Linked DNA regions of Homo sapiens: regions 1, 3, 4, 5 and 6 are each linked to region 2. Evidence: fine-mapped expression QTL. A gene starts in region 2. Each other region holds a variant in brackets. All regions are shown on one strand. Distances are from middle to middle.

Region 1 (5,033 bases), 520 kb before region 2:
GAAGTTTAAGGTTAGATAAGTATCAAGAAGCTGAATGCTTATCTGGAAACTTTGAACTTTCAGTGCCTATTTGGGTAGAAAATGTCATGATTATACTTTGTTGCCTGATTTCCATAACTTCCTGAATTTGAAGGGGCCAGAAATTCTTTGAAAAAAGAAAAACCACGGTGGAGTCCGACTGCCTCTGATGGCAAATAGAGTGAACCAAACAGAAGTGTTCAGGAACCATCTCAGCTTTCCATCTCCACCTAACCCTACCCCATAGATAACCCTGCACTTCCTGGATTTTAAACAATCGGTAGTTGGATGGCAGGGAGTTGCAGGATTTCTGTTTTTCATTTGTACCTGGCAGTTTTATCTCTCTGTGGAGTCAGGATAGTACAGCAGGCCACCACCCAGACCTTCCACTCACTGTCTCAAACTCCTCATCTGAAGATGTGAACAGAGATCACCATTTCACAAGGTTCTCATGGGAACCGGTAAGCCAACGTACATTTCCTGGCACACCTCAGGCTCTGAAAATGCCCATCTCCCTCCCCTTCTTCTTCTGCCTTCCACTGGGGGGACTTGTTCTGGTAATGGGACTGCCCTCCCCACCCACAAAAAAAATAGGTTATATAATCCACCATGTGTGTTATTGCACCATATGATGAAGAACTAAACAGACAACCTGTGAATTTCCATTGAGAGCTTGCACCCCAAGATGGAGTCAAGGTTTGAGAAGGCCATGCAGGAGGAGGGAGACTACACTCACCACACCACTTCTCTCTGGAATAGAGAGAAGGCCCCAAAGAGGTCACTCCCGTCTGGTTGATTAACCTTGCTTTAAGTCAATTAACAAACTTTTTCTTTGAAAATTTCCAAGCATAATTGTGATTATCCCTGACTACAACACATTGATTCAAAAGCACAATGGGAAAAGAGGAAGAAAAGGTCCCTCCCACCTCTGTCTCTTGCCTTTCCTAGATTAGGTGAGTGAACACAGTACTGAGTCATCACTGGACTTGATTCTCATTCAGTAGCCTCAAACCCAGTGAAGTTGGACAAAACAGGAAATGATCTGAAAGAGAAGATCTACAGGGGCCAATATGAAATGGCAGGGTGCTCTCCTCCCAGAGGAACTCTATATTAAACTGTGGAAGTTAACCAGATAATTGCCAACTCAGGATATTTCAGAATAGCAAATCTGATCTTTCTTTTTCAAACTGAAAATCCAGTAAGAAATGTTTTCTTACACTTTTGTTTTATATTATCTTTATCCTTTTCACTTATTTCTATCCTAAATGTCTATTAAATTTGAATTAATCTCTCCTTTGATACAGTTTCTCTCTTACTATCTGGTCTGTAAGAATTTAAGGCATAGACTATGTATATCTTTGTTCACCAGCATCGTTGGTGCTGGCATAGTTCCCAGCATAGTGGAGAAACAAAATCACTATATAATGCACTTTTTACTGTGGATTAAAGCCAAAAAGATTGTAAGTTCTTGAAGAAAAAAAATCTCTCTTTTGCTTCATATGCATCCCCCTCTACAAGGCTGAGCATCTCACCTTCCACATAACAAGTATTTATTATCAAATAAATGAATGAATGAACAAAAGTATTAAACATTTATTCAGAACCTTCTGGAGGGCAAGCTAAAAAGAAACGTAATGGAAGACAGGTTCCCTGTCCTTTATGAGGATAAAATTTAGTTGGGAAGGGATGATATAGATACAGAGAGTTAGATAACATTGTCAAGTAAATTTAAGTTACCTATGATGTGTGCAGACATGGAACATGGAAGAAAATTTACTAAAGACATAATCACAGGCAGTTAGGAATGCCTTCTGGGAGATACACAGACTGGAAGCAGCTCTTACAAGAAGGACTGTAGAAAATGGAAGATGTAGGTAAGGAAACTAAAATGTTGCCATGTGTTTGATGCATATTTTCTTATTTCATCTTCACATGTCATCAAAGAGGGGGAAAAAATAAGAGCCCATGCGTAGTAAATAGTGGGTCAGGATCTGAATCCAAAGCTAACTGACTCTGAAGAATATTTTCATTCTTCATGGGAATACCTCTCACCTGAAAATAGGAAGAAGGAATTAAATGAAGGGAGAATGGCATGAGAAAGGACCTGGAATTGGGGGGCATGCCTGGTTGCAACTGAAGCTGAAATGTTAAGATGGAGTGGAGTTAGTTTCCAGGGAGGCAATGCTAGAAACATAGATAGAAGCCAGATGAAAGCAATAGTCAAAAGCATGCTCTGCAGCTTGGACTTTGTTCTGTGCTTTGAATGGAAAACTTTTCAAAGATGTTAAAAGGTAATAAGTATTCCAGGAAAATTAGTCAAGCTCTTATATAAGGTAAAGTAAAATGGGAGGACTCAGAGGCAGAGAATGAGAGCTATTGCAAGCGCCCAGCGGAATGATGCTGACAGACTTGGGTAAAGTGAGTTATTCATTCATTCATTCAGTCCCTTAAGTATTCTCAAGTATCTCAAGAAATACAGCAAAAGAACAGGGCAGGTGCAATGCTTTTTCTAATGGCACCTACTTTCTAGTGGGGAAGAGAGACAGTTAAGAGGAAAAAAAATGAATATTGTTAGAGAGGAACAGCATCATGAAGAATCATCAGGATAGTGGGGTGAAGAGTCAGATAGAGGGGCTGGTGATGTGCGAGGTTGAGTGGACAGGGAAGGCCTCAGGAGGGCAGAACAAGCCCCAGGACCAGAAAGACCAGGCAGCAGAGTGGGGAGGGAGCCTGGCTCAGGGAAAGTCTGCAGAGAGGACAGAGGTCTGACGATGCAGGGTTCATATTGAATGAGGGAAGAAAAACATGAATGAAAGACACACTAGGAAGATAGGTTCTGTTGTAGGTTCTGTGTGTCTTTGAACATGGGGGTAAGGAAGAACTTCAGGGTGATTTCAGACTTGTGATTCTCTAGGACTAAGAGGTGACAAGGAGAGGTGAGGGTTTGGCTTGGGGGGAAGGGGAAGTTTTCGGTTTTATGAAAAAGAGCAGTAGGAGATAGAGGTAGCCCATGACTCATTTGTGGCTTGAAACCTCTTTCTTATAAGAGCAAAACTATTTTCTTTCATACCATTGTGGAATTTCCGAAGC[T/A]GGAATTGCTGACTACATCACAGAACTCATTTGCTCAGCTGAGAATGTTGTGTGCCTTGGGAAAGGTGGTCACACCTACCTCTACCTACAACGTGTGAATGTGGAGTGTGCAAAAATGCCAAAGGGGCAGGACTCCAGGCATTTTTCTATCAAAACACATTTCACTAGTTTTAAATTTGGTTATGAATAGCTCTCCCAATTTTGAAATTGTTTTAAAGTTGGCTCAGAGTTAAAAAAAAAAAAACCAGCCACATTAAGAATGAAATCAGGGAGCATGAAATATAAAGGAGTGAAGATGGTGGAGGGTATAAAGAAAAACCTCTGTTGAGAGTTGAGGGATGGAAGATAACATACACAGAAGCTTAGAAACTGATTGAGGCCTTGACTCTGAGCTTCCTTGGCTTGTCTAAGTCAGGACAAAATAGGAAAACTCCAGTTTGCACAATTCACAGTCTGGTCACAGTGGATCTTGCTGCTTTTCAGGAAAAATCACATTCCTTGGCCCCGTGCTTTAGAAAGGTATATATGCATAGGATGCAAAATTATCAATAACATCCCTGGTTTTTTTAAAAAAATGGCCACAATAACAATTATTCCATGTGGCTGTTTCTTTCAACAATCCTTAGTGGAAAATCTAAGTCTGAAAAGCTTTGTGGCGTCGTCTTGAGAGGCAGAGAATTGGGTCCAGGTATGTACATTTCTGGAGGTCTGGCTTAGTCCTGGGATAAAGATTGGATAATCTTGATGAAAAGGCCATCACTACAGCCTAGGGTGTCCTGGGTAAGTGGCATCTCTGAAGGTGGTGGGTCTCGCCTAGCAGACAGGCACTGTACCTGCAGCCTGAGGGAGAGGCTCTTGCTCTGTTCAGAGAGGGTGTTATGTTAAGAGGGTCACAGAGCTGGGCTTGTGCTGGAGCACAGGGCAGGAGGGGTAGGGGGCAGGGCTGTACTGCCTTTACTGGTCTTCACCTCCTCCCTTCTGGTGGGCTCCACCAACTCTTCTTCCTGCCCCAAGTGTGTGGTCTGCATCACCCAACACTTGTGACTTTCCTGTCATTCTTTGCCCCTGTGCAATGCTACTTTGCTCTTGAGAGTCTCGGCTTTTTGCCGGGAAAGATCATCACAGCTCATCTTCCTGGAGAAACCAGAGACTATTGCCTCCCACCCTGACTTCCCAGTATGTCAGCTTGGATAAGTGCTTCAGAGGGGGTGAATGACACTTTACACTTTGAAATCAGGAGTGTCTGTTCTCAGGCTGACCCAGAGCCGCAAGGCCACCTGTGGCACCCCTTCTCCATGCCCAGGTGACTCTTCTGAGCTGTCTCTACCCCAGGCACTTCTGCAGTCCTGCCCCTCCACCTTCATTGCCTTGGCTTGTCCTAATTAAAATTTGTAATTTAAAAAAAAAAGAAAAATCAAAAGCTGGTAATCGCGAGCCTTCCTTGTAAAAAACACAGCTTATTTCTATCATTAGCAACCTGTGCTGCAACAGAGCCCCTGACACGTGCATTTCAGGAGCAATTAGGAATCGCTGGCTGCATTTACATAACATTAAAATCACTGTCTACATATGCAAAATAAAATGAATCTCTTCCCATTGCTCCCACAGGCACTGGCCTGAGATAGATTTCTATCTGTTTTTGCATTTTAGCCACATGGATTTATTTGATCTGCCCATTATTTGCTTTCCTGGTAACGGGAGGTTTCCCTCCACTCTAACTGCCTGGCCAGGAGCAGCAGGCTGGGCACACCCGCGCCAAACCACTCGGGAAGAGGGGGTGAGGCGGGGCCGCGGCCTATCTCATCTCCCCTCCCCAGCATGCCTTGCAGCTGCAGGAAGCCACCCACCCATATTTCAGAAACCACAGGCTCCTGTGGGTTCCGAGAGCCTCTGTCCTGGGTGTGCTTTGAAACATGCACACAGTT
Region 2 (5,033 bases):
AAACCCTGGTCTCTCCTATACATTCTTCCTCCTGAGAATTATCAGAATGCAGCCTCCCAAGTCTGAAAGAAAGGTAAAACCATTCTAGTCCAAGCGAGTTTCCTAAGACATTCTTACTAAGTCACAAGTACATACTCCAAGAAGCTGCCTGGCTTTTGTGGGAACACAAGTGTCAGTGAATTTAGGCTGTGGCCTAAATATGCAAATTTTGGAGCCTAACCTCCAAAATTCGAAAGATGCAGTGTTCTCTCGAAGTTTGGAAGCCTAGTTCTGGGGTGGTAATTACATGATGGCTGGAGGAGCAACTGGTGATGGAAATCCTTAGGAGACACTAAAAATAACTCACATTTTAATCGACCAATCTGGAACTTCTCTCACCCCTTCATGCCAATCGTGCAATTACCATAACTCCATTCACCATGTTCCTCAGCAGTTAGTATGCACCATTCTCAGTCCTACAAGATAGTAACTATTATCCCTGATTCACAGGTCCAGGTACAACGGCAGGTAGCACAAGATGGGGAGGGGACTGAACCACACTGCACTCACACCCCACCCTACAATTAAAAACCGTCCTTCAGCGCGTGGCTGCCGAGCACCTCAAACTGAAACAAGTGTTCTTTACCACCTTTCTCTGGAGTGACAGAGAGAAAGAAAATCCCAGTAAGCCCTTCTGGCCCTGCCCACCACCTCCCCTGTTCCCACCCAGGCCAAAGGGGGAATGCGTGGGCCCTGCTCCCACCCCCGATGCTGACATCAAAGGAGCAGAGACACGCAGGAGACTCCAGGCAGCACCCGAGGCCCTGGCCGCCAGCACGTCATAATCCCTGCAGTCGCTGCCTTTCAGACTTAAAAAGAACAATGAGGAAAGACACCCACGCTTCCCCTCACTGGGCTAGGAAGGAGAGCTTTGCGGGTTTAGACTGCAGTCTCCCCCGCCCATAGCCACCTGTGTGCCGGCTCCGCAGACGAGGTCCCCCCAGCACCCTGGCAGGGACTGTACCATCAACAGACAAATGGCAGCCGACCAAGGAGGCGACTGGCGTGTGGAACAGGTGATCCGATTGTTTTTCTAAAGAGCAAGGGCTAGGACGTCCTACGTGTTCATATGCACAATTTTTTGAACTCCATCAAGAACACGAACCCCATGCCCACATCTTCACTGCTCAATTCACATTGTCTGATATGCACCTTCCAGGGAGAAAGAGGTTTTCATGGAGAAAGAGGCAACGTTGACTATACGTGTTTACTCAAAGCTTTTTTATACCGGACTATATGCCATCCAGGTTTAAGAGAATTCCAGGCAGGCTCTAGCATTATGTTTTTCACAGAAAAAGCCGGTGCAGTAGCCCGGATGCCCAGATCCACTCATTTCCCAAACCGGTTCCCACACCCGCTGCCCACCACCTGGCGAGGAAGGAGCGGGCGAGGTTCGCTCGAATCGTCGTCACGGGTTTCCGTGGGTACAGTTATTACTCGTTACATAATATTAAACAATTAAGATTAAAAATGGTTACATAATACTGTCCTATGGCTGGCGGCAACGAAGCTCGGGATCTCGGACTGCAGCGAGCCCGCGGCAGGCGGGCAGGGGGCCGCGCGGCAAGACCTCCCCGCCTCCCTCCCGGGCCCTGTCCGCCGCGGCCGGGGCCTCTGCAGCCTGCGCAGGCCGATCCGCCCGCCGCCCCGGCTCGCGCCCACCGCCCACCGCCCACCGCCCAGCGCCCGCGGCGGAGCCCACCTGAGTACCTGGAGAGCGGGCGGCAGCACTGGCCGCACGGGGTCGCTGCGTGTGCGCCGCCGGCCCGGGTAGGGCTTCGGGGCCCGGCCCCCGCAGTGCCCGGCGCGTGGACAGCGCTCCGCATGGACAGCGCTCGGAGCCGGGCCGGGCTGGTCCTCCACGGCTCCGCCCCGGCCAGGGGCCTGCGGCGCAGAAAACCGACCCGGGGCCTCGGGGCCACCGCGCGCCAGGCGAACGCGCTAGCACGAAAAGCGGGCCAACGCCGCCTCTGGGGACGCCATCCGGGCGAGGGTGGGATGCCGCGCCACCGCCCGAGCGTGCCCGGGGGCTCCCAGCGCCATCACCACGCAGGTGCCCGGGGGCCCCTCCGCGGAGCCGGCTGCCGCCCGGCTGCAATACTCAGCCTCCGAGGGACTGGGCGCTCCTGAGGAGCGGGAGGACGACGGAGCAGCGCCCGGTCCTGGAGCACAACAGGAATCCCAGGACCAAACCCATGTGACGCGGCCACGCCCCAACGCCCGGCGGGGGCCCTCTGCTGCCCAATCCCCGGATCCCTGGTTCTCATGGCAACCCTGAAGAACCCCTTGTTCCCTCCACTGCCTCCTCTCCTCCCCCACAGCCCCCCCGCCTGATGGGCAAGGACGCGCACACTGGCCACTCTGACGATGCCGAAAGCCCTCCATGTCTACCCGCTACGCCGCATTCGCAGACAGGCGGGGGACATCGCGGCCGCGGCAAGCTAGAGATGCCGCCTGCTCGAGCAACCTTCCACCTGCAGGGCCGGCCAGTTCTACTCTTCCAGGATCACTCTCGTCTCACCCTTCTCCCCAAAATGTCAGAGCAAGAACCAGGAAGGGAGAGGCTCTTTCTGGAAGCCACAGGCATAACGTTACTGAACAACGAGGACAAAGTAGGGTCCCATTTAAACTGAGAGTCAGCGAGGGAAAGAACAGATCCTATACATACCAAGCATCTGCTATGTGCTAGTCACTTCACACACACACACACCCCACACACACCTCACACACACACCACACACATCCCACCCACCCACTCACATACATACACACCACACACATACATACACACCACACACACACATACACCACACACACACATCACACATACTCCCCCACCCCCGCACACACATACACCACAGACATACACACGAGCCTGCAATGATGGAAGCAAAACAGAACGTTTGGAGATATTCACTGCCGTTTACAAGGCCACAGTAAGCAGTAAGCAGATTTTCTACTCCCCTCTAGCAGAGAACATGGTAGGAAAAGCTAGACATTGTAGACAGCAGTAAGAACCTAACAGTCAACAGTGGACAATGGATTCTGAAACTGAGATCCTATACTGCATTCACACACGTTAAGGGGCAGGGCGCTGGGAAAACCCCATCTCAGTCTGGGGTTCAAAGAGTGGAAAAGCTACCCTAGTCCAACTGCTCGGAGGCCAGGTCAGGCCCCTGAAGGTCACTGGAGGAGGAGGCTGGAAAAAGTGCAGATATGCACTCCAAAAGGAGAGGTTCCACGGTGGTCATGACCACAAAATTCCAATATGTTTAAGTCGATCAAACAAAAGCAGAGTTAAGGCTGGTTCTGAAAGCAGCCAAGAGCAGTTTTCAACACAACACAAAGGGTAACACAAGGCTTTCTTTTCTCACAGTCCGGGCTGACCACATATGGCCTGGCTACTGCAAGAAACATTGAAGGTGTTAGCGCTTTTGACTCTAACTGCGCACCCCTCAGAGAAGATGTCACATAGTGAACATCGCAAGGCACAGAATGGGAAATGGAAGCACAGAATCAAACCCTGAGATTCGGGGAGAAACCAAAGTGTGGAGAAATTATGTAACTTATCCAAAGTCCAGAGCAGGTTACTGACTGGGAGAACTTGGCTTTCCTTCCAGACTCCAGATATGAGACTTTTCTGCGGTCTGACACAGTGGCTTCTTCCACCTCTGCAGTCAACCCCACAAAGGTGGCTCGAGTGTTCCTCTGCCTCCCTGCCCAGCAGCTCCCAGCCTGGATGGTGAACTCCTTTGCCTGAACATCCCACGCACCCTGCCATCTCCTGGGCTAGAACAACAGGTTGTGCAGGACAGAGGGCTTCCCTGCCACACTCCCCTCTATTACAAAATGCCAGAGGTCCCAGTTCGAAGCAGCTGTTCCTGGATGTGGGAAGAGCAAGAGAGAAATGATCTAATGATGGACAAGGAATCTTGAAAAGCCAGACCTTCACTGAATGGCTGACAGGACACACATTTTGCTTTACTAGAACAAGAACAGAATCTTTGAAAAGGCATAAAAGCCAGTGGTCAAGAAGTAACTGACAGCAAAGGCAAAAGAGATGAAGGCTAAGCTGGAAAGTGGAGATGAAGCCTGATGATATACTCAGTGGAAGCCCAGAAAGTCTCAGGAATGAGAACTACCATTCACCTCTGGAAATGGGAAACGTAGAGTCCAAAACAAGAAGATTAATCGGAAGTGTCAGGAATAGCTGGGCCCCATTTCATCCCGGGTCCTCTCCCCAGCTCCATCAGCTAGGTGACTTCTTTTCTGGAAGCAGGGACACAGGTCTCTGGACCAGGATCAGCAGACACAGCCATGCCTTTAGTCCCAGAAAGATTTGGTGGATCACATGCTAGCTGCCATATGAATCCCACCACCATCCCCAGCAGCTCCTGGAGCAGCACCTCCAACAGAACTGAAAGAGGCTCCTGCAGAGCTGAGAAGAGACCCAAAAGCATGAGCCCCACAACAAGCAACCAGGCGTCCATCCACAGAGGCCACAGTTAAATGCTCACTCACACAGGGCTCCTGTCAGCTTCTGAGCAATGTCCTTTTGAAAGTGGGAAGACCCCAGACAGCTAAGCGAAGCCTCTAAGGTGAAAGATGTGGCCAAATTGCATGGGACAAACACTTCCTATGCCTCACCTCCCTGGGCCCTGTCCACAGCTCTATTGAGCCGCATCTGATGGGACCCCTATGTCCTGCAGCACAGCCTCCTCCTACCAGGGCTCTGAAGAGCCTGTACACCCAGCACCTGCAGGGATGTAGCCCAGATGCAACCCTGGCCCATGGTGACGGGCACTGACAGGAGATACATCCTCCACCCCAACCCCTTCCCAGCACTGTCTGGAGGACTGGGAGCTCGTGACACAAGCCAGCCCCACATGTGGAACCATTGGCTTCACTCAATTCTAGGCACTGCCCACCGCGGGCACCCCGCCTCACCCTGCACCCAGGTTCCCTCCTTCCAGCCTCCCTCCACCAGGCTGGCA
Region 3 (4,991 bases), 290 kb before region 2:
GTGGGTGGATCATGAGGTCAGGAGATCGAGATCATCCTGGCTAACATGGTGAAACTCCATCTCTACTAAAAATACAAAAAATTAGGCAGGCGTGGTGGCACGCTCCTGTAGTCCCAGCTGCTCAGGAGGCTGAGGCAGGAGACTCGCTTGAACCTGGGAGGTGGAGGTTGCAGTGAGCTGAGATCATGCCACTGAGCCGAGATCATGCCACTGCACTCCAGCCTGGACAACAGAGCAAGGCTCTGTCTCAACAACAACAACAACAACAACAAAAGCTCTAAATCTTAGATTCTTTATGAAAAGGTTCCAACAAAACCAATTTAAAAACAACAACAACAAAAAGAGCGAGAGAGCAAACCTATATGGCAAATGATTATTCTTGCTGCACTTTATCCAAATAATCAAGCCAATCATAATAGAACTAAAACTTATTTTACAAATAAATTGGCCCTATTATAATCTTGTATTTAATACAATTGGGGAACTGGAAAGAGAAAAATTATGTTTCAAAATAAACTATAGTACATCTGTAATTAGAGTCTAGCCTTGCCTAATGTTTGTCTGTTTTTATTATTTTCTACAATTTGGGCTGAATTCTAAAATTTTTCCTGGCTACAATTCTGGAAAATAATGTTGTCAGTTTTTTTTCCTTCTTTCTTTTCCTTTTTAATCGTGATTTGAAATCACTAAATATTAAGCTATGCTTTTCTTAAAGCCCTGTAAACTGAAGCTAGACAACGTCAACTTTGGAAGAAAATAACAGGAACCTATTTATATACGTAAATCACTTTCATACCTGCCTACTGACATAGGGACTTCAGAGTAATACGGTTTATGTCAGTTTTCCAGGATTGTTCTCCCTTTATTTTTGTTTGTTTGTTTGTTTGTTTCTCTCTCTCTTCCTCCACCTATTTTTTTCCTTCATGGGTCATGAGACTTTACAACCTGCTAAAAATGAGCTTTCCTAACCACGTGGGACCTGTCTAGAAATAAACTGTCTTAGTCACAAGAGACCAGACAAAACCCCAAGACTAGAGACGCATTTTCTTCTAAAATGCATTTTCTGAAGACTTTTTTTAAAAGGGGAGGGGAAGAAATGTGAACGGAAAATAAAAACTTGGTGCCTCAATTTACTATGCCAAAGGAAAAAAAATAAGCTGGATGCTTTCATGCAAGAAGATACCCTTCCTTTTGTTCCTAAGCAGAAAGCTACAGATAAAAGGTTAAATATCTCTACAGGTAGCTACTCTATGCTCACCTTATCTTATATAAAGAGCTGATTTACTGGGCGTGAGACAAATATATCATTGACTATTCCTCTACCTGCTCCTTTTCTCTCACAACACGTGGATTCAGTAATGTGACCATTCCCTCCCTCTTTCCCCTCCAGCTTGCCCTCCCCTTTAAATACTGCCGGCCTCAAAATCATCTTTGGGGAAAGGCACAAAGCACACCCTGTTTCTGTGATTCCATGTTTATTCTTCCAGGAATGTCCCTAAGCTTAGCAAAATAAAACATCTGAATTGATTGAGACCTGTCTCAGATACTTTTTGGTTAACAGGCCCTAATCCAATGTGACTGGTGTCCTTATAAGAAGAGAAAATTTGGACACAGGTAAACAGAAGGAAGACCATGTGAGGACAGGGAGAAGACAGCCATCTGCAAGCCCAGGAGAGAAGCCTCAGAAGAAACCAGCCTGCTGATGGCTTTATCTCAGACCTCTGGCCTCTAGGACTGAGATAAATCATCTCTTGTTTAAGCCGCTTGTCCATGGCACTTTGTTAAGCCAGCCCTAGCCAACTAATGCAGGCACAGTGCCCCCAAACAGTAAAGATCAGCAATTTCTGTGTTAAAACACAAATCTTTCAAAGATCAGATTTCATCTATCAACATTCATGCCATTTTTATAGTGTCATGGGACAAAACCTTGGGTTTTGGAGAGATCTGATTTTTCCAGGTACACAGCATCTCACCAAATTCTTTGACTCTTGTTCTGTCGAGAACGCACCGGCTCAGGAGAGAAAGAGCACATTCTCTATTGCAATTTAAAAACATATTTTGTAGCCTTTCAAGCCCATAGGAAGGTAAGAGGTTCCTCAAGTATTGCAACCACCCTGCCCCACCACTGTCGCCCACTCCAGAGGATGGGAACTAACCCCATCACCCTTCTCTTGTGGCAGACTTCCAGACACCGCAGGCCTCTCTTGTGTCTTAGGGCTTACGTTTAATTCCTTCTACAAGGAAATTTTCCAAATGGCCTTTTCCAAATGGCCTGGCCTCATCCCTGTGTGTCCTGTGTCTCTTCCCTACATCACCTCCACTTTGTCAAATTTCCCCTCACAGGCTGGTGGCTGAACTGAACCCCGAGCGCCGGGGAAGAGTTGTCCGGGAGAGATGAGCGCACAGCCGCCAACTTGCTGGCATCAGCTCTGCAGCGTCTGCGGCAGCCTCGGGGCATCAGCTCTGCGGCAGGCACTCCACGTCCCGAAAGGCTCAACTCCTTCTCACCACCGCACTGACTAAGCAGGTTTTCTTCAGCCTTAACATACGCACTGGTTGTCTGGACCTGAGGGCAGGACGCCGCATTCATTACACTCCTTCTTATCGTGTGTCAATATTTGCCTCCAAGATTAGGGACCCAAAATATTTCTGGTCCCTGACCGCTTCAGTTTCCTCATCTGTAAAGAGAGCGTGGCAATGTCTGTGTCCCTCAACACAGGGCTGTCGTGGGGGTCCAGAGAGCTACGAGAGGTTAGGGACTTAGAAGGGAGCCTGGATGTACCTATCCGCAGTCACTAAACAGCCTTGCTGATATCACTGTTCTATCCAGGCATTGAGGACGGCCTCAGGGCGCACGAGAACCCCTCCTCCGGACAGCCCATCAGCCCTGCCCTGCTCAAGGGTGGTTCTAGGGCTTCCTTTGTGGAAGGCATCTGAGGACGCCTGCCCCTTGCAAAACAAAAGCATGTAGGGAGAGCCACTTGTTCCCGCCAGAGCCTGTGGATGCTCTGCCTGGTCCTTCCGAACTCCAGCCACCTTAGAGGATTTTCCCCACTGACCAAAAACCTCAGCAGAGCGGATTTACATTTCAATCAAAATTACCCCTCGAATAAAGGGACCTCTGGCACACGGTGCAAACTGTCCTCACTGTGTTCCACCTTGGGTGAAACAGAAAAACACAACCACAAGAATACAAAAGAATACTCACATTCATAACGGCCATGTCTTTCATAAATACTTATTTCAGACAAAATTAAGTCTGAAATGCCCACATACCAACTGGTTTTAAAATTATATAGCAGAAGTTTGGGGAAAAAGACTGACAAAAAATAATTTGATTTGTATACAAGTAAAGGACTAGAAATGTGGTTAGCCT[T/TA]AAAAAAAAAAACAGGAAAAGGTCAAACGGGTATTTTGGTAACCTTGAGAGCTGACATTAGTTGTTTTGTATAAAAGCTGCTTTCCTCATGCTTAGGAGGAAAGTGAAAAGTTATTCACTTAATTACATACTGAACAATTTTGCAAAGCCTTCTGAATATTTGGAAAATTTTGCAGTTTTGCATACTGTACAAAATTCATGCAAATCCTCCTGGCCCTATGATCAATCAATCAACTTCTTACTTTAAAACTTTAGAGAAACTAGTTTCTAGTGTCCCTGTATCACTGCCCATCATCATTATTTCTTTAAACATTGTGTAGGTGGTGTAATATCACCCACTTTAATGCTTTAGTTCTTTTTCTTATTCTAAATATCACCAAGGTATTATCATGCTGTTATTAAGAATTTCCGGCCAGGCACCGTGGCTTACGCCTGTAATCCCAGCATTTTGGGAGGCCGAGGAGGGTGGATCATGAGGTCAGGAGATCGAGACCATCCTGCCTAACACGGTGAAACCTCGTCTCTACTAAAAATACAAAAAATTAGCCGGGCGTGGTAGGCGCCTGTTGTCCCAGCTACTCGGGAGGCTGAGGCACGAGAATGGCATGAACCTGGGAAGCGGAGCTTGCAGTGAGCCAAGATTGCACCACTGCACTCCAGCCTGGGCGACAGAATGAGACACTGTCTCAAAAAAAAGAAAGAAAGAAAGAAAAGATTTTGAGCCAAGATCGCACCACTGCACTCCAACCCGGGCGACAGAGTGAGACACTGTCTCGAAAAAAAAAAAAGAGAGGAAGAAAAGAATTTCCAGGGAAATTCTTAGGAAACATGGTTACTATTATTTTTCTTTCGCGAATACTTTTTTTTTTGAGACAGAGTCTTGTCGCCAAGGCTGGATTGCAGTGGCATGATCTCGGCTCACTGCAACCTCTGCCTCCCAGGTTCAAGCGATTCTCCTGCCTCAGCCTCCTGAGTAGCTGGGATTACAGGCATGCACTACCACACCCAGCTAATTTTTTGTATTTTTAGTAGACACGGGGTTTTACCATGTTGGCCAGGCTGGTCTTGAACTCCGGACCTCAGGTGATCCACCCGCCTCGGCCTCCCAAAGGGCTGGGATTACAGGTGTGAGCCACTGTGCCCGGCCTTAGCAAATACTTTTAAGCATTTGGACTCAGATTGCTTAAACTTAGCATTACACTAAGACTGGTTACGAATCTAAGAATGAAAACACAAGCTACTGAATTAGAAGTGTGTACTTGCATTTGTTTTCTGTCAATGCTGGATAAATCAAATAAAAAATTGTCCTTTTTAGGCTTCTCATTTCTTATGCCAGTATGTTGCAATGATATTCCCTAGATAAAAGTTTCCAGTGAGGCTAAGAATTAGCAATAATTCCATCAAGGGTTCAGAAAAGGCAGCAAGCAGTGAGCTAAGTGACTATTGCACCCCTTTGGCTCTGGCATCTTCCCTGCCAGCTTCTTTCACTGTCACCTCGGACAGGCAACTGACATCTGTGAGCAGGGAAACTTACCACATGGCAGAACAGTCAAAATTCACCAATAGCCATTTGTGGGGATTAAAGTTGAATGAATCTGCAAACTGCCAAAGAACA
Region 4 (5,033 bases), 47 kb after region 2:
GTGTTCCTATTTTTTAAAGCATGTCCTCTGATGCTACAGGATGCTTCAGGCTGATCTGGAATTTCCCTTAATTCAGTTATTAATTCAGCCATAGGATTGTATGAGGATGCATGACACAGGGGACTTTTATTGTTTGGTCTGTCCAGGATCCCCCATCCCTGGAAGAACTCATCTCCCCATCCCTTGTGGTCCTAGGTTGTCCATCAGCACACCACCCCCAGTGGGCCACAGGAGGAAGGACTGATGCAAAGGGTATGCATTTCCACAGGGCCAGGAGGGCCTCCCTTGAGGTGGCTATGTGTATGTTGGGAAGGAGAGTTTCACTTTCCCTGTGCTGCTAAACTGGGAAGCTGGTGGTGGCCATCTTCCCCACTTCATGAGAGAACTTGCCTTCAGAAGAAGCCAATACAACAGGAGGCAGAGCTGACCTTGAGAGAGAGCCCTGCCTGTATGACAGCACCTCCCATCCAGCTCTTCTTGACACTCTTCAATGTTCCACCTACATGGACCAAGACACTCCAATTGCTTTTTAAGCTCATTGTGCATATGACTACATGAAGTACCTAGCATGAGGACCACATCTTTCTGCCAGTCCGGCCCTTCATAGAATTTACACCCCACCTACTTCGATGGACACCAAAATATAATCCTCACACTTGACCTAGACACACCCATTATGCTGATTGAAACAAATCAAACTTTAAAAGCACTTCAGAAGACTACTTTTTAGAATCTAGTAATCACCCTTGATTTATGCTTTATGCAAAATTACACAGATTTTTAATGAATTTTTGCACAAATCTAAGTATAAATACAGATGCTCCTGAACTTACAATGGAGCTACTTCCCAATAAATCCATCATAAGTTGAAAATATAGTGAGTTGAAAATGCATTTAATACACCTAACCTACTGAGCATTGTAGCTGAGACTAAAACATTCTCAGAACACTGACATTAGCCTACACCTGGGCAAAATCATCTAATCCAAAGCCTATTACAAAAAGTGGAGAATATCTTATGTGATTTATTGAGTACTGTACTGAAAGCGAAACTAAGAATGGCTGTATAAGTACTCAAAGTACAGTTTCTACTACATGTGTATCACTTTTGCACCATTGTAAAGTTGAAAAACCTTAAGTTGAACCATCGTAAGTTGGGGATTATCTGTATATCACTTTAATAAGGCGAAAACAATACTACAACCTAATGATCATAAAGATATAGTGGAATAGGTACATTTATATAAGTAATAGAGTAAAAGGTTATACAAATCAACATCCATAAAATTGTGGGATTTTTGATCTAATAATCTCACTTGTGGATGTAACCTAAGGAATTTAAAAAAGTTTTTTTAAAGACAGATTCATAAGTTTTTTGCAGTCTGATTATTTAATAGAGAAATATGGGAAACAATTTATGTGTTCCACAATGGGGTCTTTTTTTTTTTAAGTGAAACCTTAACTCTTTGAAATGTTATATGATTTTTAAAAATTATAAACATGAAGAAACTCAAGCAAGATAATGATATTTATTATGGAGGCTGCATTACTCGGGACAGGTTAAGTTATTATGACTTAGAATAAGGGCCCCCAGGAGTGTGTGGACAGAGGAAAGGGATGTGAGGACATGGTGAGAAGGCAGCCGTCTATAAGCCAGGAAAAGAGCCCTCACCAGAAATGACACTACCTGCACCTTGTTGATCTTGGGCTTCCAGCCTCCAGAACTGTGAGGAAATAAATTTCTGTTGTTTAAGGCACACACAGTCTGTGGTATTCTATTCTGGAAGCCTGAGCTGACTAACACATGGGCAGAGAGGTACAAGCCTAGCATACCTCCGGAAGTGAAAAATACTGGAAATAATTGATGAACAGCAGTGATGTCTACTAAAGAGGATGAAATAAAAACAACAAAGAAACAAAATAACAGAATACATCCTTGGTGACTTAATAGCTGTATAATATAGTTTCATTTCTCCCTGGCCTTTAATACTATATCTTGTAAATGTTTTATTGAGATACAATTCACATACTATAAAATTCACCCTTATTGAGTGTACAATACAGTTAATTTTTTAGTGTATTCACAAAGTTATGCAACCCTAACCACTGTCTAGGTCCACAACATTTTTATCACTCCAAAAAGAAATGCCATTAACAGTCACTCCTCACTTGCCTCTCCTCCCAGCCCATGGAACTAGTTGTCTACTTTCAGGCTCCATAAGTCTGCCTCTTCTGCACATCTCACGTAAATGGAACCATATAACCTCTCAGCTCTGTCTCATCAAATTATGGAGTCTTCTGGCATGTGGGTTCCTCCCTCTGCACTGTTACCTGGGAGCTCTTTCAAGAGAGGGGCAATGTTAAGGCTTGCATGGTTTGCTTCCTGCCTCATGGTGATCACTGTCCTGCATCAGGTGGTGTCTAGTATCTTGAAAGCTGATGGTGTTTTTAACTTGTTTTATTGTTGTTGTTATTATTTTCATCAAGAGGATAAATGTGATACCTGTTACTCTATGTTGGCCCAAAGTGGAACCCTACATTGCATTTATACATTTTACACATTTTGCTTTCACATAAGACTGTTTGAATAGTGTGTTCTTCAGCTCGGCTACAAAGTTTGAACACTTTTTTTTTTTTGAGATGGAGTTTCACTCTTGTTGCCCAGGCTGGAGTGCAATGGCATGATCTTGGCTCACTGCAACCTCTGCCTCCCATGTTCAAGCGATTCTCCTGCCTCAGCCTTCTGAATAGCAAGGATTACAGGCATGTGCCACCTCATC[C/T]GGTTAACTTTGTATTTTTAGTAGAGACAGGGTTTCACCATGTTGGTCAGGCTGGTCTCGAACTTCTGACCTCAGGTGATCTGCCTTCCTCGGCTTCCCTAAGTGCTGGGATTACAGACGTGAGCCACTGCACCCGGCCCAAGGTTTGAACACTTCAGATGTAGAGCTGTGATCACAGTAAAGAAAATGGAGGAGGAAAGAAATGGAGGAGGAAAGAAGAGACCTGGATTTTATTTTTTTATTTTATTTTATTTTTTGAGATGGAGTCTTGCTCTGTCGCCCAGGCTGGAGTGCAGTGGCACGATCTCGGCTCACTGCAACCTCTGTCTCTCAGGTTCAAGCAATTCTCTGCCTCAGGCTCTTGAGTAGCTGGGATTAGCCACCATGCCTGGCTAATTTTTGTAGTTTTAGTAGTTACGGGGTTTCACCATCTTGGCCAGGATGGTCTTGAACTCCTGACCTCGTGATTCACCTGCCTCAGCCTCCCAAAGTGCTGGGATTACAGGCATGAGCCACAGCGCCTGGAGAGACCTGAATTTTATTGTATACAGTCCATACACAAAACTCGGGTGCAACTTATCAAACTCCAATTCATCTTCCAAACTTTCTCTTTCAGAAACACTTCCTATATGAGGTCTTCCTGCAAATGTCTGCACTGCCCTCAAATTAATCATTCCACCTTTGTATCATTTTGTCCAGTTTCAATATCTTGTGCATATTTGTTATTGCTTGTATTATAATTATTTTTGGCCTCATTTTTGTCTTCTTTGACTGCAAGCTCCATGAGGCTAGCAGAATGTGTTATATGTGTTTGGTCTGCAGACTTACCGTGATACCTGGCTCACGGTAATTGTTCTATAAATATTTTTTGCACTAAATTGTATACATATCTTTTATTTCACAAACTACGTCCATTATGTAAGCAAGCTAGTTTTCCTTCTCTTTTAGTAGGAAGAGGGAAAAAAAGTGAAAAATATCAAATGTTTTGCCTAAGATGAATGATCAGGAAATTGGAGACAAGGACGGAAACCCAGCCAGGGCTCTAGGTCTTCCACATCATTTGCTTCTCATGAGCAGTACTGTCCAGCAGAAACTTCTGTGAGGATACAAATCTTCTATATCTGTGCTGTCCAGTATGGTAGCCACTAGTCTCATGTGGCTACTGAGCACTTGATCAGTGTGACTGGGGACTTCCATACTTAATTTAAACTAATTTAAACCTAAACCTAAATAGCTACATGTGACCATTGGCTACCATATTGGACAGCCCAGCTCCATACTGTTGAAGACAGAGCCCTTGTCTTTTTCAACCCTTGAACTGCACATGCTCAACAGAAAAGAAGTTCTGAACCTGAGGGGTTTTTTGTTGATTTCTGAACAAAGAAGAAATTCAACAAAAGTGTCCAACCAATAGTTTTGCCAAACAGAAAGAAGACTGTCTAAAATAAAAAAAACCAAGATGAAATTTAGGAAAAGTAGATTAAAAGATCAACAATAAAAATGATCAAGTAAATAAGTGTTCTTAAAAACAGCCATGAATTTCAAGCCTTGGCAAAGAGTAGTTTGACCTTGAGGTTCTCTGTTCCTAAGTGACTTCCATGGTAAGCGTGGGTATGATAAACACACACACACACAAACACACAAACACACACACACACACACGAAATTGGAGAGGAGGAGGAGGATTGGAACCCAGCCAGGGCTCTAGAGCCCTAGTCTCATGACTTTCACATCATTTGCTTCTCATGAGCATTATTGTACAGCAGAACCTTCTGTGATGATGAAAATGTTCTGTATCTGTGCTGTCCAATATGGTAGCCACTAGTCGCATTGGCTAATGAGCACTGTATAAATACAGATATAGGTATAGACATATGTACTCTTAAAATCTCTTCAATTGAATTGCCTCATACTCCACTTAAGGGGCCATCCATGTTAAAGGTAAGTTATGGCCTCAGCAATGATGGCCAAGCCATTCTGATCTCCTACAATGTTGGGGAGATCTCCTTTGCCCTGCCCAGCTTGTCTGTCTCCTCTTTTTGAAGGGCAGTGTGCTGCCCTTCAAACGGTGCTGCCATAACAAGCCATGTGGCTCAAACAAGAGAAATGTATTGTCTCGCAGTTCTGGAGGTGAGAAGTCGAAGATCCAGGTGTCGGGTTGGCAGGGTTGGTTCCTTCTACGGGTGCTGAGGGAGGTCTGTTCACATGGTGTGGGGAAAAGAAAGGATAGCAGGGGGTTGCCATCAGCGTTGA
Region 5 (5,033 bases), 69 kb before region 2:
CTATTCTGCCAGTTGCAAGGTGTACAAAACTAGTCCCTCAAATGGAAATAACCTTCATAATAAATGAGCCAGAGCCATTTTTCTCACCCAAAGTGACACTGCCTGTTTTGATATTACACTTTAGGTCTATGCAAGAGGAAAGGAAGCAAGAGGTTTTTAAGCAGAGATTTCAGTCAAACTGATCCTTAAACAAAAACAAGAGCTGCTTCCACCAAAAGCCTGAGATGGGGGAAAAAGAAAAGTCAGCAAGCCAGGTGTCTCGTATCAAGGAACAAGGGGGATGCTCTTTACTTACAATTGTATTCACACAGGCTGCTGAGGCCAACATGAAAATATCTGGGCAAGCCCTGGTCAGAGTACAAAAAAACTTTTCTCCCAAATGGTAAGAATGCCTGGCCTGGCAGGGAAAATACCACCACATAAAAAATGATCACATTTTCACTAAAATCATACGGCCTAAAAAACACACAGATCAGTGGCTTGTACTCCATATTCAGGCACTTATTTCCACATAACTACCTCCAAGTGCAGCCATTCTTGAATTAAAAGCAAAAGTAGTGCATGAGCTGCCTCACTTTAACCACCCACTCTGCAGTGTTCAGCACAGAAACATCAATTCTGGTTATTCACAAGGGGAGGAGTCTATCAATCATTTACATTTTAAACAGCTCTATTGAGATATAAATTACATAACATAAATTTCATCTGTTGGAAGTGTACAAACCAATGAATGTTAGTATAATTAAGGATCTGTACAACCATCACCACAATCTAATTTTAGAACATTTCCATCACCCTACAAAGAAACCTCCTGCCCAGAGCCTGTCAATCTTGACAAATGGTTTTCCCAAAATAAAATGCCTTTGCCAAGTCAGTTTTGTTCCTGTTTTTGCATCTGGTATTCCCACATCAATGAGGCATTTTGGCCGAAAGGGGGACAGCACTAGCTCTAGAATTTCTACAGAAGAGTAGCTACATGACCTTGGGGAAGACATTAAACCACCCTGTGTGAGTATAACCTCCAAGGACTATTGAAGATTTAGTGTGATCACACATGGAAAGCACGGCTCAGTAAATCTCAGCTGCTATTTTTACTACTGCCACTACTGCCCCTGCCTCCTCCTCCTCTGCGGTCACTACCTCCCCTCCCGACATTTCCACCAGCACTCCACCCCTTCCCACCACCTCCTTCCATCTCCATCACTTCTCCTGCCACATCAGCTCCTCCTCTACCTTCTCCACCTCCTCCACCGCCACCTCCATCTCCTCTACCACCCCCACCATCATTTCATTACCACCTCCATCATCACCTCCAGCACTTCAACCAACTCCTCTACCATCTCCACCATCTCCTCTACTATCTCCACCATCACCTCCACCTCCTCTGCTACCTCTATCACCTCCACCTCCTCCACCATCTCCATCCTCACCTCCACCTCCTCTACCATCTCCACCATCACCTCCACCTCCTCCACCATCACCTCCACCTCCCCCATCACCTCCACCTCCTCCACCACCACCTCCACCTCCTCCATTGTCACCTCCACCTCCTCCATCCTCACCTCCACCTCCTCTACTATCACATCACCTCCACCTCCTCCACCATCTCTATCCCTCACCTCCACCTCCTCCATCTCCTCTACCACCTCCACCATCACTTCCACCATCTCCACCATCACCTCCACCTCGTCCACTTCCTCTACCACCTCCACCCTCACCTCTAGCTCCTCCTCCTCCTCCACTACCTACCCCTTCATCACCACTTCCACCCATTCCATCACCTCTGCTCCTTCCCACCACCCTTCACCTCTTACATCTCCAACACCTCCATTGCTACCAACACATCCACCTCCACACTCTTCATTATCTCTATATCCTCCTCCCCCTCCACCACCACCTCTACCATCACCTCTACCTCTTCCTCCCCTACCTTCACCCCTCCTCACCACTTCCTCCATCCCCAACTTCAACAAAAAGGCAACTATTCAGACACCAAAATATCCACATGTATTAACATAATATTAATTTGTTAGAATAGTCAACATGTAGCAGTACCTTAATCGATCATGAGTTCTAGAGTAACTTAACAGTCTGAGAAATCAGAAGATCAGAATCTCTAAACTACCCACTTAATAATTTTGACAACACAATCTTTAAAGTACCACAAGAGGATCAGTGACAATGCAAGTTATAGTCAAATTATATTTATATACTTTAAATATAACTTGAGGCCAGGAGCAGTGGCTCATGCCTGTAATCCCAGCACTTTGGGAGGTCAAGGTATGCAGATCACGAGGTCAGGAGACTGAGACCATTCTGGCTAACACGGTGAAACCCCGTCTCTACTAAAAATACAAAAAATTAGACGGGTGTGGTGGCGGGCGCCTGTAGTCCCAGCTACTCAGGAGGCTAAGGCAGGGGAATGGCGTGAACCCAGGAGGCGGAGCTTGCAGTGAGCCGAGATTGCACCACTGCACTCCAGCCTGGGCTACATAGCGAGACTCTGTCTCAAAA[A/C]AAAAAACAAAAAACGGAGTGCAATCCTGAGCCCTCCTGAGCTCCCAGGTGGGGTGCACAAAGCCATTGCAATTGCACTGAACCCAACTTCTTCAGCTTCAAGCTTCTCGTTTTCTCTCTGGGTCCCACAACCCCAGCAACCTCTACACTAAAACCAGAGAACCAAACCATGTGCGGCTGTGAGAGTGATCAACAGAGCCAGGGTTGCCCTCCTAGCAGATCAGGGCCGTAGGAGGCACATGACACACCCACATTCTTCCCCCATGAGCAGAAGGAAGAGAGAAATCTCTTCCTTGAACTTTCTCAACAATAATCTCAGAATTTGGAAATAACTCTCATTGTCCTGGCTGACCAGGAAAAGGCCCCAGGGTTTGATATGATGAATCCTTGGTGGTGGCTTTTCCTCATTTCTAAGTCCCTCCCACAGGTAGAGGGCAGGGGGCCAAGGGTAAATGGCAGCCAATGCCAAGAAGCTGGAGGCGGAATGAGGTAAGCTAGGTCTGGCCTGGAGCTCCAGCCTGGGGCTCCCAGGTGTGGCAGCCCTTTGAAGGGCAGGCGCGATCTGGAGCAGGGAAGGGCATGGAGCAGCTTCCAGGTGCAAGCAGAAGGGCTGGGCTGGCAGGGCAAGAGGACGGCGGTTCATAGTGATGCTCCCCAGAGGCTTTGGATAAAGCTCGTTTTATTCATAAAAATGAATAAACAGCACAGATCCCAGGGCTCAGGAAACTCAATCCCTCTGCCAAAGAGTGACTTTTCCCAGTAAGACCAAACTCGGGCAGCCATTACAGCAGGAACAATTGGTGGATCCCAACCTTGCTGTGGGCCATAAGAAACAGTTCACCTCGCCCTTCAGGTATGAAAAATCTTATTGTGGCATGAGCCAAATGTTTACAAACTGCCAGTGTGACAAACTATGATTCTGAGCAAATAACTTCACTCTCTGGGCCTATTTCCTCACCAATAAAATCAGGTTTTTGGACCATATGACGTCTAAACTTCTTCTGAGTTCCAAAGCTGGGTCTGCACACTCCACAAAAATGTTCCAAAGCAAATCTACTCCTAGAACCACGGTTAAAATAATATCATGGGTGACTTCTGAGCTTCTGGCCAATATGGAATATAAAGGATTAGATGTACCCTCTCCCCCTAAATAACTAAAACTGAAACAGTTTTCATACATTTGACAACAGGCAGCATGGGACAGTGATTCCTGAGACATGATCCACATGACGCAGCCCTACTAGTGCCCACTCACTGGCTGGAGAGAGCTTCCAAGCTGCAGCGCAGGGAGGGGGAATCTCCCTTCCAGGCAGAGCCTAGGATCGTCCTAAGGAGACAGAGTTCAACACTCAGGAAGGTCAAGGCAGAGAGGAGAGCGCTCAAGAGAGGGGGCTCTCCACACACATCTCCAGCTGAGGATTAATGACGCATGCATGTAAGGAAAATACCAAGACTGGGAAGAACCACCAGAATGAAGGAGACAGAGCCATCTGGAGAGAAGCGTGTTCCCACCAACCCAAATGGAAAACTTCCTTACGCATGGGACACAAGACAGCCCTCAGAAGGGTCCTGCCTCAACAGTGGGGGCAAATTAGCCCCAAACTAAAAGTGACTCTGGGCCCAGCTAACAAAGCTTATAAGCCAGCCTCAAAAGGGTCAAACTATTTCCAAGAAGCTTCTTTCCAGAATAAAGCCCAAAATATTTAAAAGAATAGCCCCCTCCCAAGAAGTAGCCAACACCCAACCAGGTGAAATTTACAATGACTGGGATCGAAACAAAAAGTACCAGGCATGAAAAGAAAATAAAACCCATAACGATAAGGGAAATCAGCCAAGAGAAACGGATACAGAAATGTCCAAGATGAAACAGCAGGCGATATATTAAAATGATGAAGATAAATATGCTCTGTGCATTCAAGAAGGAAAAGCAAAGCATGAGTGATAAGGAGAGAAGTGGAAGATATAAAATGACCAAATCCAACCCTACAGATGAAAAATGCAACACAGGAGATGAAAAATATGTGGGCAGGATTAACCAGACATTGGACACCACGCTTCTCTCCCCTCCCTCCATCCCCAGTGACCAATCTCCAAAGACACACTGTGAGGCTCCCTCGCCCAACGGCTGGCGTGGTCTGGAGAGGTCTAGGGTAGGAGCACCCTATGAAGACATAGTAATAGAAACTATCCAGAATGGCACACAGAGAGAAAAGGAAGATGGAAAAGATTACGATAAACTACCTCCAAATGATGAGGCCAGATGAGGGGAGGGAGGAAGGAGCTCAGGTTTGGGGCCAGAGAAAATAAAGGCTGCAGCCAGCACTTTCTGCATTCCCGCTATTTGGCCGGGCTGGATAAGTCAACCAAAGTTTCTGAGCCTCACTTTTATTGTAGGCAAATTTGGATCATACCCATTTCAAAAAGTTTGGTAGGAAAACTGAGTGAGATGAGGTATACAAAGTCCTGTCACAAAACACATGCTAGCTCCCTTCTCAAACTCCAAGGAGACAGTCTCCCAC
Region 6 (5,033 bases), 36 kb before region 2:
ACTTGCAACATTTGAGCTCACAGCAACAGTGGAATTATTACAGTAGTACAGTAATTTTCATAACTATGAAATTAAGTGCAGTATGTACTACAGTTAATTCTATGCAGTGATGATTTCATACAGCACCTTCATGGGTTTTTTTACATTTCTGTCAACAAATGGCTCCATGTATGGTCTGTGTTTGTGTAAGTTTTGACAAACTTTAACTTTTTTATGATTTGTATATATTTTAGAGTAACAGCCTAGTCTTCTACATATATTTTATGCATTCATGACATAGCCTTTTCTTAATTTTTTTGGTATTTCTCGGCTATGCTGTAAGATTTTTCAAACTGTTGCAAATCTCAAAAAAATTTTCTAGTAATTACTGAAAAAAACTCCACATATAAATAGACTCACACAGTTCAAATCCATGTTGTTCAAGAGTCAACTGTAATTTTAAATTTGCAATGCGTATTACTTAAATATAGATTTAAAATTGGGTTCCTTTTAAAAGAACTTATTGTTCTCTGATATATTAATATTTTTCTAAATTCATTAAAGATTTGTTTCTACCTTTGGAATCCTTGATACTTGAATTTTACAAATTCTTACAAATTACCGAATGCCTTTGGGTGTCTTCCAAGGAATAGATCTTTGTACATTTAAACTATAAAAAGAGAAACAAAAATTAAGACACCAAATCAATTAAGACAAAGAGGGGAACAATTGCCATGACAACACATTACCAACTATAACCCCCACTGGTCCGGAAGCACTGTCTTCCTTTGGGAATAGATAAAGCCAACGGGAAGGAAAAGCAAAACCACTCAGATCTGTCTTTGCCGCCTAAAAATAGTGAATTTCATAACTGTTGGGAAAACGGCTAGAACTTTATCCGAAAAATAAAAGATGCTCTATAAAACAGCCCTTGGATTTAAACACTTTATAAACTAAATGCGCTCCAAAGTCATTCCAATCAATATTAGATGGTAAACCATTTGTCCCTATAATAAAACCCAAATAACTCACAGAAGACATCTTTTTACCTAAAGAAAACTTTTTAAAGGCCTCAAAAAGTTAATCACTCTTTCTAAACGCTAAAGTAGTTAATCACACTTTCTAGATGCTAAAGTAAACTCTCTGGCTAAATTAGGAAATACTGAAGATAGTGGCATCAGATCTTAATCTCATTCTTTTGGCAAATCTTGAACAAGGCCTGGGATTTGCTCTCTTCCCAATTAGGCCCCAGAGTCCAGTATCTGAGCTGTAAGGACGCTGTCCTGGGTGCCACTGAGAGTAGGATGTGGCAGTGTGAAACCATACAAGCTCCACAGGCAGCCTGGTTTCTTCATAATCTGTACAGATGGTTCCCAACTTGACAATGGTTCAACTCAGGATTTTTCATCTTTATGATGAGTTGATGAGGATGTAAACCCATTTTTAGTTAAGAATCTCCTTACAACTTACCATTGGGTTATAGTTTCTACTGAACACTTGTCGATTTCACACCATCCAAAAGCCAAAAACACAAAGCATTATTAGATCAAAAATTAAAATTAAAACAGTCAAACCGTCATTAAATCAGGCACCATGTACCGTGTTGCCAGCACTGAATGCATTTTCAACTTACGACATTTGTGTCTTATGATGGGTTTATCAGAATGGAACCCTGTAAACCAAGGAGTGATTTATTTTCTTTTATACCTAAGACCGGGATTCTAATGAAATAAGGGAGGAGCGGGCACCCTCTGGTGACACTGCCAGACCCAGGAACTGTGTGGACTCCTGTGAGGGCCTTTCCTCAGCAGCACCAAAGAGGATAATGGCAATCACCAAAAACTACCTGCAGACCCTCCCTGCTGTGCTGCAAATCTTCATTCACCCTCAGCTACTCACTTTCTCCACAAAAGAGGCTTTTTGCCTACTGCCCTAAACCTCCCATCCCCACCCTTTTCAGTGCAGCATCCCCAAACCCCTTCCTGCAGAACACCCATATCACTTCAGGGCCTGCACACCACCCAGTCTCTGCCC[C/G]CCGGGCCTCCAGTCCCCAGGGCTCCCCTGGCCTGTCCCTGCGTGAGCCATTCTGTGCTCTCGCCTCAATTCATGACCTCTTCCTGCCCATGTCCTCCCTCCCTTGGGTCCATGAACATTTGTGTGCATTTCCCACTTCAGGAGGGAAGGAAGGGAGGAAGCAAAGTGACATTTCTCTTAAGCATGTCCTCCTCTAGCTCTAGCCCTTTCTCTCTCTGCATCCCTCTGCAAGTGTTGACAAAGCATGTTCGAAACCCGCTGCCTCCTACCCCTCAAATCAGCAGTCTCTCCAAAGCCCCAGTTTCTGCAGCGAAATTCTCTCTAAACTTATTTGAATCATTAGGAGTTTCCATCATGGTCTCTTCTCACTCTCACAGTCATGGTCGCTGCTGGTGGGCACTACAATGAGGAAGCCAGGCTAAGGAGAGACACACGACCTATCCCTGAGCCATGAGCCCAGGCGCGGTAGCTGAACCTGGCCTGGGGCTGGGATTCCTGCTTTTGAGGAGGAAACCCGCGAAGCAGAGCAGGTCCCCACCGTTCCCTCCAAATCCACAAAACAAAGGCGCTTACAGTCAAACAAGTTCAGGTTTTCTATAAAGTCAAATGTTTTCCTTTCTTCCAGTGCTTCTTTGAGCCTTTAATCTAGCAAGGCAGCTCTCTCAAGAGGAAAAGTGGGGTGAAGCATTTTCAAAGATGGTTTTACCCTCTCTCCAACCCTTTGGGATTTTTCTCCCTCCACCCCGCTTCTCCATTTCACCCCCAGAGCTGACTGGGCAGACACCCACCACGCTCACTGTTGAGGGCTCTGCTCCAACGCTGAGAGAAATGGCATGCAAGCATGGAGCAGGGCAGCTCCATGGGACCCCAGCTTCTCTGCTGAAAACAGGCCGCCTGGGAGGAGAGAAGCTGAGAAACCAGTCAGCAGAATCCTGCACCCAGGCCTTGATGGATGCTCAGGAGAGAAGTGGTGCATTCTGAATCTAGCAGGTGGGACACGTGAAAGAAAAGCGGAGTGGAGACCTCGGGCCTGGGCAAGTAGAAGGAGGGCGTCTCCAGACATCGAGATAGGAAAGGCGTGGGAGATGATGAATGGGCAGGATGCATGTGTGCAGATAGGAAATTCTAGAAGGCAAGATGCATGCACAGGTGGGATTCCAGAAGGCAGGAAGCATACCTGCAGGTAGGAAATCACAGAAGGCAGGACACATGCGTGCAGGTGGCAAATTCTAGAAGGCAGGACGCATGCGTGCAGGTGGGAAATTCCAGAGGATAGGATTGTTCTCATCCCCGCCTGATGATGCTGGTGACACTGTTATTTCAGGATGGGGAGGGAGTGGATCTGCTCTAATAACTGAACGTAATCACTCACCCCCCGCCCCATCTTTAACGGGGTCCTGTGGTTTCGGATTAATTAAGGAAGCCCTAGGTAGGGGTTTTCCTCCTCTCTGCCTAGCACCCTGGAGGAGGCCCCGTGGCCCATGACGGAGTAGCCATGTGCTGGTGTTAGAGATGGACATCAGACAGTGCACACCTACCTGCTATAGGCCAAGTGCCATGCAGATGGACACGAGTGGGCACCACAACAGCCAGGGAGAGCGTCACGGCAGATGTGAGAGCTGAGCTCGGGAAAGTGTTGGAAATTAGGAGTGGAGAAAGGAGGTAGGAGAAACAGCATAACAAAACCAGAGGCAAAGGCACACACAACAGGCTGGGAGAATGCGGAGAAAATCAGGGTACCAGGGATGGGGTCGGGTAAAAACAAGCCTTTGTGGAACATTTATAATGGGCCAGGTTCTCAGCTAAGCGCTGACTTCCATTTTCCTTCTCATTCTTCCTAACAATACCCCGAGTGTCACTGAGGAGGAGCCTGGAGTTCAGGAATGTAAGCAACCCCAGTGTTTAGCTGCTGTGGCGGGGACCGAGGCCTTTGGACCCCATAGTGCTCCAGGAATAGGGACCAGTTGGGGTAAAGGGCAATGATATCCATCTTGACCACAAAGACTCTGAAGTAAAACAATCGAATTTCATGGAGAGAGTGAGACCCACGTGTGCAAAATGTAATTTCTCTAATCCTCAAAACAGGGAAAAGCTACCAGGACATTTATTTCCAAAAGGCCATAAGAAATCAGAACCTCTACTTTATAAAGAGGTGCTACATTAAAAGACATATTAAATAAAAACTCTTGTTCTCTCACCTGTAAAAGGGTGGAATGGGTCTAGACTCTACAATCTAGAGGATGCCACAATTTGTCAAACTCAAATGGTCTAGATGTTTACAAACACGTTAGTCAATTCTATATAAAATGTTGGGTTTTTTTGTTTTGTTTTGTTTTTTTGTTTGTTTTTTTTTTTTGAGATGGAGTCTCACTCTGTCATCCAGGCTGGAGTGCAATAGTGCGATCTTGGCTCACTGCAACCTCCACCTCCTAGGTTCAAGCGATTCTCCTGCCTCAGCCTCCAGAGTAGCTGGGATTATAGGCACTCACCACCATGCCCAGCTAATTTTTGTATTTTTAGTAGAAACAGGGTTTCATCATGTTGGCCAGGCTGATCTCGAACACCTGACCTCTGGTGATCCACCCACCTCAGCCTTCCAAAGTGCTGGGATTACAGGCATGAGCCACCATGCCTGGCCAAAATTTGTATTGTTATAAAATTCTTTAATGTATAATTGTGAGATGGAATTTTAAATAATTTTGCTTTGATAAAAGTAGATTTTTTTCTACTCTGGCCACACTCATCCTATATTACCAGAGCTTCTATAAATAATCTCCAGGAGTTCTTCTTAGAAACTTTGTATAATTTGTGGAATTTGTCATTTTCAAAGCATTTTTCTTCCATTGGTTCTAAACACTGCAATAACTAGGTAATCATCTTCTAATGCAATCATCTACATCAATCATGCACACTCTGGACCCCCAGTCATCAACTCGTTGGTCTATGAAGTAATCCATCAAAATAACCATTAACAGTATAAAGAGAGGGCACCTTTGAAATGTTACCCTCTTCTCTCCTCC

Alleles and levels. Alleles are on the strand shown, and positions count from the first base shown. SD is a standard deviation of normalised expression in the study named. Not every link is listed here.
For the expression in cerebellar hemisphere of the gene that starts at base 2,222 in region 2, allele A in region 1 goes with a higher level than allele T (moderate effect, 0.63 SD a copy in GTEx).

The links.
Region 1: its variant is fine-mapped to the expression of GRB10 in cerebellar hemisphere (GTEx, PIP 0.98).
Region 3: its variant is fine-mapped to the expression of GRB10 in naive CD8 T cells (Schmiedel 2018, PIP 0.95).
Region 4: its variant is fine-mapped to the expression of GRB10 in whole blood (TOPMed, PIP above 0.99).
Region 5: its variant is fine-mapped to the expression of GRB10 in whole blood (TOPMed, PIP above 0.99).
Region 6: its variant is fine-mapped to the expression of GRB10 in whole blood (TOPMed, PIP above 0.99).

Annotation. Positions count from the first base shown.
Region 1 is chr7:50,262,078-50,267,110 of GRCh38, forward strand. No RefSeq gene overlaps it. Among named protein-coding and RNA genes, the nearest start is that of IKZF1, 40 kb to the right of the region's middle. RefSeq lists an enhancer at 4,990-5,033. The variant T/A (reference allele first, on the strand shown) is at 3,109.
Region 2 is chr7:50,780,675-50,785,707 of GRCh38, forward strand. It overlaps GRB10 (growth factor receptor bound protein 10), which reads right to left and starts at 2,222. Exons shown (of 19, transcript NM_001350814.2): 1 at 1,750-2,222; 2 at 1-62.
Region 3 is chr7:50,490,440-50,495,430 of GRCh38, forward strand. It overlaps DDC (dopa decarboxylase), which reads right to left. Exons shown (of 15, transcript NM_001082971.2): 9 at 4,911-4,978. Among named protein-coding and RNA genes, the nearest start is that of DDC-AS1, 39 kb to the right of the region's middle. The variant T/TA (reference allele first, on the strand shown) is at 3,377.
Region 4 is chr7:50,827,245-50,832,277 of GRCh38, forward strand. No RefSeq gene overlaps it. Among named protein-coding and RNA genes, the nearest start is that of GRB10, 47 kb to the left of the region's middle. RefSeq lists an enhancer at 1-354. The variant C/T (reference allele first, on the strand shown) is at 2,781.
Region 5 is chr7:50,712,153-50,717,185 of GRCh38, forward strand. All of the region lies in intron 4 of GRB10 (growth factor receptor bound protein 10), which reads right to left. Among named protein-coding and RNA genes, the nearest start is that of GRB10, 68 kb to the right of the region's middle. RefSeq lists an enhancer at 3,058-3,573. The variant A/C (reference allele first, on the strand shown) is at 2,515.
Region 6 is chr7:50,744,778-50,749,810 of GRCh38, forward strand. All of the region lies in intron 3 of GRB10 (growth factor receptor bound protein 10), which reads right to left. Among named protein-coding and RNA genes, the nearest start is that of GRB10, 36 kb to the right of the region's middle. The variant C/G (reference allele first, on the strand shown) is at 2,014.